Regions from separate parts of the Homo sapiens genome. Here all the other regions are linked to region 2. Evidence: fine-mapped expression QTL. A gene starts in region 2. Each other region holds a variant in brackets. All regions are shown on one strand. Distances are between the middles of the regions.

What was found. PIP is the estimated chance that this variant, and not a neighbour inherited with it, causes the effect.
Region 1: its variant is the best candidate, but not a certain one, in a credible set for the expression of DLGAP3 in lung (TOPMed, PIP 0.51).
Region 3: its variant is the best candidate, but not a certain one, in a credible set for the expression of DLGAP3 in whole blood (GTEx, PIP 0.90).

The regions. Positions count from the first base shown.
Region 1 is chr1:34,809,954-34,815,183 of GRCh38, reverse strand. No RefSeq gene overlaps it. Among named protein-coding and RNA genes, the nearest start is that of GJA4, 20 kb to the right of the region's middle. The variant C/T (reference allele first, on the strand shown) is at 2,109.
Region 2 is chr1:34,927,234-34,932,463 of GRCh38, reverse strand. It overlaps DLGAP3 (DLG associated protein 3), which reads left to right and starts at 2,814. Exons shown (of 12, transcript NM_001080418.3): 1 at 2,814-3,013. RefSeq lists silencers at 2,206-2,255, 3,236-3,305.
Region 3 is chr1:34,889,810-34,895,039 of GRCh38, reverse strand. All of the region lies in intron 5 of DLGAP3 (DLG associated protein 3), which reads left to right. Among named protein-coding and RNA genes, the nearest start is that of SMIM12, 33 kb to the right of the region's middle. The variant T/A (reference allele first, on the strand shown) is at 2,781.

The DNA.
Region 1 (5,230 bases), 120 kb after region 2:
TTCTTTAAATGCTGTTCCTATTTCCTATTCCCGCTTTTCTCTTTTTACTTCTCAGATTTTCTCTTCATTAGACTACTTGATACTGTCTCATAGGTCACTGATGCTCTGCTCAGTCTTTTTGAATGACTTTCTTTTTTCTTTTTTTTTTGAGACGGAGTCTCGCTCTGTCGCCCAGGCTGGAGTGCAGTGGCGAGATCTCGGCTCTCTGCAAGCTCCGCCTCCTGGGTTCACGCCATTCTCCTGCGTCAGCCTCCCGAGTAGCTGGGACTACAGGCACCCACCAGCACGCCCAGCTAATTTTTTGTATTTTTAGTAGAGACGGGGTTTCACTGTGTTAGCCAGGATGGTCTCGATCTCCTGACCCTGTGATCTGCCTGCCTCGGCCTCCCAAAGTGCTGGGATTACAGGCGTGAGCCACTGCACAGGTGACAGAAAGTCACCTGAATGACTTTCTGTACTTCATTTCGAGTAGTTTCTGTTGGTATGTCTTCATCTTTACTGTAGTGTCTATTCTGATGTAAATCTCATCCAATGTACTTTTTTCTTCTGATACTGCATTTTATTCTCTCTACAAATCCCATTTTGGTCTTTAAAATGTATTTTTCTTTTTTTCTTCAGCATATTCATGTTTTCCTTTATATCATTGAGAATATATTTTTATATTTATAAAGTAACTCAATTCATTTTCTGCTAATTCCATCATTTCTGTTATTTAGGGGCCTGTTTCTATTTATGAAATTGTTTCTTGGTTTGGGGTCACTTTTTCCTGCTTCTTTGCATGCCTGGTAATTTTTTATTGAGTGTTGGATATTGTAAGTTGTAATTTTTGGATGCTGGGTTTTGTTGTATTCCTTTATAAAATATTGAAATTGCTCTGCCATGCAGTTGAGCCACTTGGGATATTAGATCTTCTTGAGGCTTGCTTTTAAGTTTTGTTAGGGTGAGTCAAGAGGATCATTTAGTGTGGGGCTAATTTAGCCTGCTCCTGTGTGTTGCTAATGTCAAGACTTTATCCAGTGCCCTGTGTATTCTGTGTTTTTTCCACTCTGGAAGATGCAAACATGAACTATTCTTAGCCTTGTGGAGCTCCAGGATTTGTTCAGCTTATAGTTTTCTATTGATTATTGCCTTAGGAGTTTCACCTTACACATGCAGTGATTGTTACTTAGGTAAACACTCAAGGGTACCCTTCTGAAGATCTCTGGAATTCTCTTTCTTTGTGCAGCTCCATCTTCTGTGGTATTCTGCCCCAGAAAATCTAGACATTTTTGCCTCCCTGAATTCTGAGCTCTTTCTCTTCAATTTAGCAAGACTGTGGATCTCTGTTTGGGTTTCTCTCCCTGCTCTGCAGCCTGGAAACTCTTCACAAGTAACTGGGGCAATGGTAGGGCTCACTTTATTTCCCTTTCCTGAGTTCTTCACTACCTATTGTTCAGTATCCAAAAGGAGTTGTTTCATATATTTTGCCTGGTTTTCTAGTTGTTTATGGTTGGAAGAAAGTTTGCATAGAAGTGTCATTTGTGAGTAGAAGCAGAATTCTCCACTAGCTTTTAAATTCAATAACTTCTAAAATATTTCTATGTTTGATTTAGATTTCTTTCTTCATGGTCTTAAAAGAACACCTTTTTTTTCCCTCAATTTTGATACCTTTTTGTTTTTTTCTCGATAATATAAAGCATACTTATTCATATCACATGGATATTTTCATAGTAATATTATATAACACATCACTCGAAAACTCACTGGCCTAAAACAAAAATCGCATATTTTTATGAATCTGTTGACTGGCTGGAACTAGGCTGGGCTTTGCTGGGGGCCTCTGCCTAAAACTGGGGCAGCTGATGTGGCTCCACTTTTCACTGTAGATCTGTGGTCAGTTGGGGCAGCTCTGCTTCTAGCGTTCATTCGGGGCCCTGGCTGAAAGGCAGCAGCCACCCCGAGGAAGTTCTTCTTGTGATGATCGCAGAGGCACAAAAGAACAAACAGAAACACTCAGTCTTCTTAAGGCTGAGTCTGGGAATCGTCCATGGCCCCTTCCTCCTCAAGTCATTTGCCAAAACAAGGCACCTAGCCAAGCTCTAAGTTGAAAGGCGTAAAAGTATACTCTG[C/T]CTACAGTGGGGCTAGGGCAAGGGTGTGGATGCAGGGGAGGATAAAGTATTGAAACCAGTAATTCAAACTATTACATAAATTTTCTTTCTATTTATTTATTTATTTATTTATTTATTTATTTATTTATTTAGAGACAGAGTCTCTCTCTGTCACCCAGGCTGGAGTACAATGGCACGATCTTGGCTCACTGTAAACTCTGCCTCCCAGGTTCAAGCGATTCTCGTGTTTCAGCCTCCCAAGTAGCTGGGATTACAGGCGTGCACCACCACGCCTGGCTAATTTTTGTATTTTTAGTAGAGACGGGGTTTCACCATATTGGCCAGGCTGGTCTCAAACTCCTGACCTTAAGTAATCTGACCGCCTCAGCCTCCCAAAGTGCTGTGATTATAGGTGTGAGCCACCGTGCCTGGCTTATTACATGAATTTAAAATCCTGACCAATGGTTCAATGACTTGAAGTGTTTGGAAGTGAAATTCTTCCGTATATTGTTTTTGCATACTTCCATTCATGGTGCATTATTTTCTGGTGTATTTTGTCATTTTGGATTGGTGTTCAGATATGGTAGGCCTTTTAGAAATGGAACTTCCATGTGGCCTGGCTTGAGGAAACATCCCTCAAGAATAATTTTTTGTCGGTCTCTTCCAGGTACCCTAAGGTTCGCATTAGCCAGGGACTCTTTATTACGTTAATTTCTCAGGTTGGAGGTATGTGGACATTGCAAGGAGTAGAAAATTGAACCCTAGGCTGGGAACAGGGGCTCACACCTGTAATCCCAGCACTTTGGGAGGCCGAGGCGGGTGGATCACCTGAGGTTAGGAGTTTAACACCAGCCTGGACAACATAGTGAAATCCCGTCTCTACAAAAATACAAAAATTAGCTGGGCGTGATGGTGGGTGCCTGCAATCCCAGCTATTTAGGAGACTGAGGTGGGAGAATAGCTTGAACCCAGGAGGAAGAGGTTGCAGTGAGCTGAGATCACGCCATTGCACTACAGCCTGGGTGACAGAGCAAGACTCCGTCTCAAAAAAAAGACTCAAGTCTCAAAAAAAAAAAAAAAAGAAAGAAAAAAGAAAAAAGAAAAAGAAAATTGAACTCTATATCATGTAGAGCAGTGGTTACCAAATCTCAGGTGAGGCATATTTCCTCCTACTAGAACCAGGGCTGAGAGAGACGGATAGTGTACTGGCTTTATGCAGGAGCCTCAGTTTAACCTCCTCAGGTGGGCCCAAAGCCTTGTGCCTTATTCCTACATCATCATTAAAAGCCAACCCCTTGTTACCAAAAGCAGGACAACAAAAAGCATTGGTAGGCCAGGCACGGTGATTCACGCCTGTAATCCCAGCACTCTGGGAGGCTGAGGCAGATAGATCACTTGAGGCCAGGAATTTGAGACCAGCCTGGCCAACATGGTGAAACCCTGTCTCTACTAAAAATACAAAAAATTAGCCAAGTGTGGTGGTGCACACCTGTAATCCTAGCTACTCGGGAGGCTGAGGCACGACAATTACTTGAAGTCAGGAGGTGGAGGTTGCAGTGAGCCAAGATTGCACCACTGCACACCAGCCTGGGTGACAGAGTGAGACTGTCTCAGACAAAAACACACATGACAACAACAACAACAACAAAAAAGCATTGGTACCCACATATTCATTTTAGTTTTAATTTCCTCTTTAGTTTTGTTGCCTTTATTTTTAGCTCGGTGCTACACTTGAAAAGTTGCTTGTAAAAATTTACCCAGCATTTCTTTATTTTTTTGTCTTCAACTTTTATTTTAAGTTCAGCGGTACATGTGCAGGATGTGGTTTGTTACGTAGGTGAACATGTGCCATGGTGATTTGCTGCACAGATCATCCCATCACCTAGGTATTAAGCCCAGCATTCATTGGCTATTCTTCCTGATGCTCTCCCTCCCCAGCACCCCTCACAGGCCACAGTGTGTGTCAGTCCCTCCTTGGGTGTCCATGTGTTCTCATCATTCACTTCCCACTTATAAGTGAGAACATGTGGTGTTTGGTTTTCTGTTCCTGTGGTAGTTTGCTGAAGATAATGGCTTCCAACTCCATCCATGTCCCTGCAAAGGACGTGATCTCATTCCTTTTTATGGCTGCATAGTATTCCACGATGTATATGTACCACATTTTCTTTATTCAGTCTATCATTGAGTGGCGTTTAGGTTGATTCCATGTCTTTGCTATTATGAATAGTGCTGCAATGAACATATACATGCATGTATCTTTATAATAAAACAATGTATATTCCTTTGGGTATGTACCCAGTAATAAGACTGCTGTTTACCCAGTATCTCTATCTGTTTTGTATAGTGAGTTTTCTCAGGTTCTCTCATTAGCTATTTTGCGATTTTGTATATGATCTTCTCTTTTCCTGGATTACTCCCAATATCCACTTACACTTTAGGCTCCATTTCTTCTGAATCCTCTGGTAAATTAGATATTCTTCTTCTTCTTTCTCGTGGGGAAATTATTTTCCTTCATAGCGTGTTTATATTTTGTGATCTTATATGCTTATTTAACTTCTGCTTTTCCCATTAGACTCTCAGCTCCTCATAGACAGAGACCAGATCTGTGTTGTTTTCTACTAATTCCCAGAGCTTAGTACAATGCTTAGAACATAACAGGCCCTCTGTAAGTATTTGTTGAATGAATAGTCGTGATATTTGGAAATACCACTTGTCATTACTGTCATGTATGTGACATTATGTTAGTCAAAGTACTTTTAAGTATGGTTTCCAAAAGCTTGCTACTTGCCTGCGTTAAGACTGTTCTAGTCTCTGTTCTGGTCAACCTGTTAATGAATGATTGGATAATGACATGTATGGACTGTGTCAGAGAATTATACAAGCTTTTTACCAGTCAAGACTCTTGGTTGAAAGCAATAGAAATGGACTCTGATTAATTTAAACAGAAAAGGAATTTAATTGAAAAGGTATTATATAACTTGTACAACTGATGGGAAGATGGAATTAGGTTTGAACAGGATCCAAGAAAGGAAAAGCCCAGTTGCTATAGTTTGAATGTTTGTGTCCCCTCTAAAGTTTGTGTTGAAACTTAATCATCAATGTGATAATATTAAGAGGTGGTAATTAAGGTAATTAAGTCATGA
Region 2 (5,230 bases):
CCTCATGATCTGCCTGCCTTGGCCTCCCAAAGTGCTGGGATTACAGGCGTGAGCCACCGCGCCCAGCTTTTTGTGCTTCTTTGACTGTCCTCTTCACCTAGGCAGAGCTAGGCCCAGGGTGAGCCCCTTGTCCAAAAATTATTAACAATTTTAAGACAGTGACAGCAGAATATTCTACCAAGAGTGATGCCTTTCTACATGTGGGGCTCTGTACGACTGCACAGGTCACACTCCCATGAAGCTGGCCCTGATAGTAATTATTGGTTTACATCTCCATCTCCCTTATTAATCAGTTATTAATCACTGGATGGCTATGGGAGAACACTGTCTAAGGTAAGCCTGTCTGATTAACCTGTATGCCCCCAAGAGGCTAGCAAGGTGCCAGGTATAATCAGTAAAGGGTTGTTGAATGAACAAATGAAAATAACATTATGTTCTCAATTCTAAAATGCACCAACTCTAATAGCTTTAACAGAAAGGTAAGAAGAGCCATATTAAATGTCCCTGTTTATTGTAAGATGCTTTCCAGTTTCAGAATAGTTTACAAAATACAGGTCTTAGAACTGCGAAAACACGGTGGTGCTTTTTAACATCCTCTATCACGGCTGTTCTTTTTTTTTTTTTTTTTTTTTTTGAGACGGAGTTCCAGGCAGGAGTGCAATGGTGCAATCTCTGCTCACTGCAACCTCTGCCTCCCGGATTCAAGTGATTCGCCTGCCTCAGCCTCTGAGTAGCTGGGATTACAGGCGCCCAACACCACACCGGGCTAATTTTTGTATTTCGGGTAGAGACAGGGTTTCACCATGTTGGCCAGGCTGATCTCGAACTCCCGACCTCAGGTGATCCGTCTGCCTTAGCCTCCCAAAGTGCTGGGATTACAGGCGTGAGCCACTGTGCCCGGCCGTCAGCTCATCCTTTTTTTTTTTTTTCTTTAAGACTGAATCTGGCTCTGTTGCCCAGGCTGCAGTGTGGCACAGTCTCAGCTCACTGCAACCTGTGCCTCCCGGGTTCAAGCAATTCTCCTGCCTCAGCCTCCTGAGTAGCTGGGATTACAGGCACGTGCCACTGCACTCGGCTAATTTTTTGTAATTTTAGTAGAGACGGGATTTTACCATGTTGGCCAGGCTGGTGTTGAACTCCTGACCTCAGGTAATCCACCCGCCTTGGCCTCCCAAAGTGCTAGGATTATAAGCATGAGCCACTGCGCTCGGCCCAACGGCTGTTCTTATGCTCCACGGAAAGTGAGATGTTTCCTTCAGTTCTAAAGTGGGTTCCTGGGAACAACTTTCTTATTTTCATGACATCTGCTCTTGACTGAACCCTGGGCTGGAAATGGTCTGCAACCTCACTTCATGATTGAAGAGACAATGAACCGTTCTTGTGAGCAGCAGGGTAGGTGACCAATCTACTAGTCTCTTACCAGACTTCTAGGTATCCCTTGGGAAGAGGGCTCTCCAAGCCCCTTATGTTATTTAATGTAATGTGGCATCTTAAAACATCATCTCCCTGGGGAAAAGAGGTCTTGGCTCCCAGTTCTAGCTCTTCTGGGCCTTTGGCTTCTCCTTTCCGTGCCTCACTTTCCCCTTTATACAGGGAGGAGAGCCGGTGGCCCCACAAGGAAACAGAGAGCAGGGAGTTGTTGGGGTGCGGGGTGGGGGCCGTTGAATCAGAACAACTCCAAGGTATGTTCCTAGAGAGGTGGGCAGTCTCAAGCCTCCCAAGCCCACACCTCACCATCCCAAGCTTTCAAGACCGGAAAAGGTAGAGGAGGGAAGAGGGCTTTAAGGATGCCCACTGAACCTCCACCCCCAACTTTCAGCGCCGGAGGCAGTGTTTCCTCACACCTACCCTGGAAAGCCGGAATCCGGAGCCACCCCTTCCCCCACGTCTTCAGCCCCTCCCCCTGCGGCTTCCCCACCGTGGCCCCCTCCCCCCCATTACAGCATCGCTCTGGGCGCCAAGACGGATTCAAGCCAGGGGACTGCTGCAGTCCGCTCTCCGCCTCTCGGCTCCCGCAGCCTGTGTCCGGGCTCCGCAGCCTCCAGCTGTGCTTCGGACAGTCCCTTTCCCCCCACCCCGACCCCGCCATGGCACAATCCCAGGCTCAGGGCCCAGAGGCGGGCGGGCACAGTGGGCACGGGCGGGGGCCCAGCACAGGCGGCAGGTACAGCGGGGCTCTCCCTCCACACTGGGGATGCCTCGGCTGTGCGGACTGTGGGTGGGGGACGCCTGCCAGCGGCTCCGAGGCCGGGCACAGCGCCCCATCCTGGCAGGGGCTGGGGCCGAAGAGGGGGGCTCCCTGACCCCAAGCCAGGAGCTGAGGTCAGGCGGCCGACCGGGAAAGCCCGAAGGAGAGTCTCCTAAGCGGACGGGCCTGGGGGCTGTGTGTGACATTCAGGGCGTGACTGCCCCTCGGCGGGGGGCGAGACCCGGTCCGTGAGGCTGAGCTGGTCCCCGACCGCCCGCCCGCCGCCGGGCTTGGGTCCCTGTACCCAGGTCGGCTGTGCGTGGCCGTGACACTTCGGGTGCCTGTTCCTGGGTCCCCGGGGAGGGGGATCTCATTCCTGCCCCTACGCTGGGCGCCCCCAGCACCGTCGCTCAGCGAGGTGGGCGCTCCTCCGGGACCCCGGCGGCCGCCCGCGGGCGGCGACCTCGGCCCTCCTGGGTCCGCGCGGGGGCGGGGAGCTCGGTCCCCCTCCCTCTTCCTCTCCCTCTCCCTCTCCCTGCTCGGCTGCCCTGCGCGGGGGCGGGGGCGGGGGCGGAGCGCGCGGGCGGGATCCCCCCGCCTCCCCTTCCCGGTCCCCGGGAAATCCAGCCTCCGTGGCTTGGCCGCCTCCCGCTCCCGCGCCCGCTGCCGCTCGGCGCTCGCTTGGGGCTCCGCAGCCGGCGCGGCCCCTCAGCTGGGGGCTCCGCAGTGCCGGGCCCCGGTCCCTGCCCGCCTGCCCAACGCCGCAGCGCCCCCGGCCCGGGCCGCCGGCACCATGTAACCCGGCCGGAGCCCGAGCCGGGCCAGGTAAGCCGCGGGGAGGAGTGGGGACGGGGCCGCGCTCGCGGCTCCCTCTGCAGCGCCCCCCAGGCACGGCCCGGCTGCGGCCCCGGCGCCGCCCACGCCCCGGGCTCCGGCGCTCGGCTCCCGGCCCCGGGAGGGGGGAGGGGCTGGGCCTCCTCAGCTGCCCCCGCTCCTGCCCCGGCCTGGCTGCCCGCGGGCCCGACCCGAGGGGCGGGCAGGGGACCACGCGGACCGCGGACCCACGCTCCCGGTCAGGGCCGCGGGGACAGGCCAGCCCCGGCCCAGCCCTCGCCCGGCTGGAGGCTCGGGTCTGGGAGGGAGTAGCCAGCTGGTTGTGGGGGAAGTCGTGGTGCTGGGGAGATCCGGAGAGAAGTTTCCTCTGCAGGTGTGTGAATGTGAGTGCGTGTCGCTGTGTGTCTGTGCCGAGTGTGTCACTGTGTGGGTCTGTGGGCGATTGTGTGTGCCGGTGAGTGTATGCCGTGAGTGTGTGCGTGTGTCACTGTGGGCGAGAGTGTGTGTGCATGTTAGTGGGTGTATGCAGCGTGAGTGTGGAGGGTGGTACTGTGTATGCATCTGTGGACATGTGAGTGAATGAGTGTGTGTTGTCCCCATGTGTGCCTGTGTGTGTCTGTGAGTGTGTGAATGGATGTGTGTGCCGGCGTGACTGTCTCTGTGAGTGGGTCCCGGTATCTGCCCTGTGTGACTGTGTGTGTGTGTGTGTGCGTGTGCGCGCGCGTGCGTTGGCTGTGTGAGAGAGAGTGTATCTGAGCGCGGTTCACTCTGAATCACCCACACCTGGGCTCTGTCCCCCCCACTGTCCCCCCATTCCTGGTGGGATATGGGACAGGGAGATGAGACTTTTCCGAGGTCAGATCATTCCCCACTTCTCTGGGGACCCCTGACCCTTGATTCAGGCAAGAGCTTTGTGGCACTCCCCAGCTTGGTCTCTACCTTCACCTACCTCAGGGGGTGCCCTCTGGGATGTTGCTGGTCGTGTCCTTCCTGCATGCTAAGGCCCCTGGTGGGTGGGAGGGGGGATCTGGGGCGAGCTGGAGTATGTGCCTGCGTGTGCTGCTTCTCCTTTTGGGGGCCTGGGAACTTGTGTCATCTCAATAATGTTTCACCAAGGGCCTTTTAGAGCTAGGAGATGAGGAGGCCAGGTGGAAGCGTCTGCCCTGTTAGTCATCAGAGCAGGTGGCGCTCTCCCAGACTTCCAAGTCCCAAACCTTCAAGTTCTGGGTTATTGGTTCAGTCCACTGGCTCCGGGTGGGTCTGTACTAAGCTCTTTGAAGTAATAATAATAAAATAATGCCCTCATATTAGTTCAGGGCTTTTGAAAATGCTGCCCTCTGAACTCTTCTTATTTCCCCAACAGCCTTGGGAAGCAGGCAGGACAGGTATCACGTTAAGCCATATGCAACTGCAATATTCAACTGTTTTTATTTAACCTACAAAAACAGCAATTTCATATGGTTCAACCAAATATAATGCCGATTTACAGATGAAGATGTTGAGGCTTGAGAAATGAATTGCATTTTCCACAACCACACACTGCTAGTTAGTGGTACAGAAAGACCTCAGCCCAGGTCTTTCAGTGACCCAAAGAACTGGGCTGGGCCAAGGTTAGAGAGTGGTACTTCCTGGTGTGCTCTCTCTGACCCTGGGGGCACTGCCCTCTACCACTGCGCAGCATTCCCTGAATGCTGGGGCTACTTCTGCACCCAGCTGCCAATGCCTAAAAGAGTGGGGGGTGGGGGGAGAAGAGAGGAGGGAGGGGAGGGAGAGGCTTCGTGAGTTGGCAGTGAATCAGGGTCTAAAAAGGGAGCTGGGAGGGCTAGGGTGGCAGGTGTTTCTAAAAGGAACATGAACATAGGATGAACGGCCTCACATACAGCCCCCGCATCTCCCACCCGCCACTGCCCCACTGATCTGGCAGGCAGGGCCCGCTGAGTTTTGTGCCAGGGGGCTCACATCCAACGAGTGAGCTTGTATGTAGCTGTAGAATGATGGCCAGGAGAGGAACCTTAGTATTGACTTGGTCCAACCTCTTCATTACAAACCGGGGACTCTGAAGCCCCAAGAAGGGAGGGGACTTGCCCAAGGTCACACAACGAATTTGTGAGTTCCTAGGCTAATCTTAGACGAGGAACTTTGCAATCCTCCATGTTGCCTTCTATTCCTGAACTCTCCCCACCCCCATCAGAGCTGAGTACAGGGGAT
Region 3 (5,230 bases), 37 kb after region 2:
TATATTTATGGGGTATAAAGTAATGTTATGACTTATGAATACAATATGGAATAATGAAATCAAGTGAATTGACATACCCATCACCTCAAATACTTAAGTGATCTTAGGACACTTTAATTTCCTTGACTTCTTCCCTTCTTATGTGGACTTATTGCCCAGTATTTTAGTTCTACCTTTTAACCTGTCAAATTAGTCTCTATTATTATTGTTACTTTTTATATTATTAGCTCTTGATTGTATGTACTCACATCTCTACCTTTTTTACTCCTCACTTTACCTCCTTACATCTCATTGTTTCCTCCTAAAGTATATTCTTTAGTAATTTTTTCAGTGAATATCTGTTAGTAGCAAACTTGGACTTTAACAAAAAATATATTTTACCCATACTGTTTGATACAGTTTAGCTTATTGTGGGAATTCTAGCTTAACATTTATTTTCTCTAAGTGTTTTGAAGATATTCTTTTGTCATCTGTCTGTTGTTGCCGTTAAGGAGTCTGCTATCATCCTGATTGTCTTTGTAGGTAGTTTTAATTTCTCTCAGGTTGCTGTTGAGATCTTGCTTTGATTTTATTGTTCTGCAGTTTTGCTATGATATATTCATGTGTGTGCTCCATAGGTCTGTGGATTCATGTTTTTCATCAATTCTGGAAAATTCTCTCATGGTATAGTTTGCATAGTATATCTTTTCCCCATTCTTTTACTTTCAACTGTTTGTGTTTCAGATTTAAGGTATGTCTCCTGTAGACAGCATCTAATGGTTTTTTTTTTTTTTTTGCTTTATCTTATCACTATGCCTTTTGAATGAGTGTTTTTGTCCATTCATGTTTTATTTTATTTATTTAATTTGTTTTTGAGGAAGGGTCTTGCTCTGTCATTAAGCTACAAGGTAGTGGTGTGAACATGGCTCACTGCAGCCTTGACCTCCCAGGCTCAATCAATCCTCCCACCTCAGTTCCCCAAGTAGCTGGAACTAGAGACACATACCACCATGCCTGGCTAATTTTTGTATTTCTTGTAGAGATGGGGCTTCACTATGTTGCCCAGGCTGGTCTCAAAACTTCTGAGCTCAAGTGATCCACCCACCTTGGCCTCCCAAAGTTCTGGGATTACAGGCATGAGCCACCATGCCAGACCTTCACATCTTAATGTGGTTATTGATGTGGTTGGACTGTCATATTATTTTTTGATCCTCTGTTCCTTCTTTACTGTCTTCTTTTGTATTAAATCAATAAATATTTTAGTGTACCATTTATATTTATTTGTTAATTTTTTACTATACAATTTGAGTTACTTTCTTAGTGATTGCACTAGGAATTACAATGTATATCTTAGCTTATCAAAATATAATTATGGTAAAATATAGGAGCATTGCTCTAATATAACTCATTTTCCCCCTTTTTGCTATTACTGTCATATATTACCTATATATGTTTTAAACCTAACACTTGTTATAAACCAACATTGGTATTATAATAAGTGCTTTGTGTAATCTTACATCTTTTAAAGAAGTTAAGAGAGGAAGTGAGGAAAATATATTTATAGAGGCTCTTGTATTTACTCACATATTTACCATTTCTGGTGCTCTTTATTTCTTCTTCTGTATTTGAGTTACCATTGGCTATTACTTTATTTTCCCTTTAGCCTGAAGGACTTCCATTAGTGCTTCTCATAATATAAGTCTCCTGGCAATAAATTATTCAGTCTACATTTATCTGGAAATGTTTTTATTTTTACTTCATCTTGGAAGAATAGTTTTGCTGGATATAAAATTCCTGGCTGACAGTTATTTTTCTTTCAGCACTTAGAATATACCACTCCACTGCCTTCTGGTGTTCATTGTTTTTTTTTTTTTTTTTTTTTGAGACGGAGTCTCGCTCTGTCGCCCAGGCCGGACTGCGGACTGCAGTGGCGCAATCTCGGCTCACTGCAAGCTCCGCTTCCCGGGTTCACGCCATTCTCCTGCCTCAGCCTCCCGAGTAGCTGGGACTACAGGCGCCCGCCACCGCGCCCGGCTAATTTTTTGTATTTTTAGTAGAGACGGGGTTTCACCTTGTTAGCCAGGATGGTCTCGATCTCCTGACCTCATGATCCACCCACCTCGGCCTCCCAAAGTGCTGGGATTACAGGCGTGAGCCACCGCGCCCGGCCGTGTGTTCATTGTTTTTGATGAAAAGTGAGTTGTTTCCCTCTATGTGATGAATTGTTTTTCTTGTGCTGCTATTAAGATTTTCTGTTTTCAGCTTTCAACATTTTGACTGTAATTTGTGTGAATATAGATCTCTTAGTGTTTAACCTACTTTAGGTTCATTGAGCTTCTTTGATCTCTAATGTTTTTTGTTTTTTAATTAAATTTGGTAGGTAGGCACAGTAGTGGGCACCTGTAGCCCTAGCCACTTGGGAAGTGGAGGCAGTAGGATTGCTTTAGCCCAAGAGTTTGACCTGTAGTGCACTATGTTATGATTGTGCCTGTGAATAGCCACTGCACTGAAGCCTGGGCAACATAGTGAGACCTCATCTCTAAAAAAAACAAAAACAAAAAACGAGAACAAAAACAAAAGGAAAGTTTTTGGCTATTGTCTCTCCAAATATTTTTTTCTGCCCTATCTCTTCCTTTTCCTCTTTTTTTCCCCTCCTCCTTCTGGAACTCCCATCACATGCATGGTGCTATGCTTGATGTTGTCCCATAGGCCTCTGAGGCTGTGTTCATTTCTGTTTAATATTTTTTCTCTCCATTATTCATATTGGATAATTTATACAGATCCATCTTCATGTTTACTGA[T/A]CATTTATTATGGTGAGCTCCTCTACTGAATTTTTAATTTCAGTTACCCTACTCTTCAGCTCCAGAATTTCCATTTGTTCCTTTATTTAATCTCTCTCTCTTTGTTGTGATTTGTATTCATGAAGTCATTGTTGTCATGCTTTCCTTTAAATCTTTAAGCATGGTTTCCTTTAATTCTTTGATATATTTATAATAGCTGCCTTGTAGTCTTTGTCTGATAAAAGCAACATTTGGGGATATGCATACCTTCTTGTTTATTTGCATGTTTCATAATTTTTTGTTAAATACTGAACATTTTAGATAATATATTGTAGTAATTCTAGATTATGTTTTCCTCTTGAAGATTGTTATTGCTTTGTTTGTTAATCCCTGAATGAAATCTGTGAAATCTGTCTTCCCTACAACATGTGGCCTCTGATGTTTCCATTCAGTTTTATTTCCTTCTTATTTTTATTTTAAGCCTTGTTTCTTAGGGGTTTCCCCCATATCTGCATAGCTTAGTGTTCAGCCAGAGATTTTTCGGAGGTTGTGCTCAAGAACCTCAAGCTAGTTAGACTTTGTGTCTGCCTATAGTTCTATGTGTGAGCTGGGGAGGGCAAAGTTCAGGTTGTTTTCAAACCTACCCTGGCTTTTACTCTTCACCAGACTCTTTTATTTCCCCTGCACACATATATAAGCTCCATTGGCTAGGGATGTGTGGGTGGCTCAGGCTTCTCTGGTCTCTGCTGTGCATTCACCCAGCTTCGAGTTAACCCAAGATATGTGGAGAGCTTATCAAACTCCCTTGGTCTGTCTCACTCCCTGGAATTTTCTGATAAATTCCTGGTTAGTTTGCCAGTCCATTGTTTGGCCCAAACATTGCTGAAACCCAGCCTAACAGTGCTTCTGGCCTTTCCTGTTCTTGATATTATAACTGACAATGCCCCAAATTAAGTGGAGCCCTCTGGCAGAGGCAGTGAAGCAGCTGATTTTTCACAGGCGGCACCACGTTTGTTGAAGTATTGCAACTGATAGCATTGGGAGCCTGGTGAACGAGAGCAGCCTCAGGCAAGAATACTATAGAGTCGTGCTATTCTTACCCAAAGTCCAGTAATTTTTATGAATACATGTTTCTTTGTTGTATGTCTTTGATTGATTTGCAGAGTGATAAAATGGTGGGTTTTGACAGTTTGTCCTGCTTTAGAGTCGTATTTTCTTCTGTTCTCAGTTTTATCTTTTAAGCTTGGAACTTTTAAACATCATTTAAAAGTTATTTTATTTTAGCTAAGGTAGCACTGGCTGCTTTAACAGAGAAATCTTGAATTCTCAATGGCTTAACTCAATAAAAGTTAGTTTTTGTTTATGTCACAATTTGTATTTTCTATTGCTATGTAAGTTATCCCCAAATGTAGTATCTTTAAACAACAAATATTTATTATCTCACAGTTTCTGTGGATCAGGAATCTGAGTGCAGCCTGGCTGGGTGCGACTGGGTCAAGTGTCTCACAAAGTTGCAATCAAGGTGTTGGCCAAGGCTGCAGCATCTCAAGGCTTCACTGGGTGAAGATCTGCTTCCATGCTCACTCACATGGCTGTTGGCAGGCTACAGATCCTTGCTGGCTACTAACCAGGGACATCAATTTCTTCTATGTGAGACTCACTACAGGGCTACTCACAGCATAGCAGCTTGCCTCCCCCAGAGCAAAGGCTTTGAGAGAAAGAGAATAAGAAAAGGTGTCTAAGATGGAAGCCACAGTCTGTTTGTAACCTAATCTCAGAAGTGATATCCCATTGTATCTGCCATATTCTATTCATTAGAAGTGGGCCAATAAGTCTGGTCCACACTCATGAGAAAGGGATTACACAAGGGTGTGAGTTCCAGGAGATGGAGATCATTAGGAGCTATTTCAGAGGCTGTCTCCCACATAATACACTCACCTTCAATGGAAATTTATCTGTGAGAAGCATGAGCAGCTTGGGTTAGGAGTGAGTTCCCCAGGAAATATTTTGCAGTTGCTTCTGTTGGAATATGCCTGGTTTGGAACTATTTTATGCTAATTTTTAATTTTAGGGGTGTGGCCCATGAAGGTTCATGCAGATACACTGTACCGTGGCTGTGTGAGGACCAGCTTGTAGGTACAGATTCTTAGGGGATTTGCCTCTTTTCCCTTCCCGCCATCCCTGTACTTCAGACCAGCTTCCTTGTCATCAGCCTGTGGTGATGACTAATTTTTTTATTCTAGTCTACATTTTCATCAAAGGTTTCACTTTTCCTAACTTTATGCAGGTTCTCCTTTCCAATTCCACGCTTCATGTGGGCCCAAAGCCTTCCTCCTATGCCCAAGTGGGTGTTAAAACCTAAGCCTTTACCAAAACGCTGAGACCAACAGCCCCTGCCCCCACCTCCCGCCTCCACTGGGCTGTTTGCAGCATTGGCTCACACAGTTAATATTCTGATTTTCCAGTCTCCT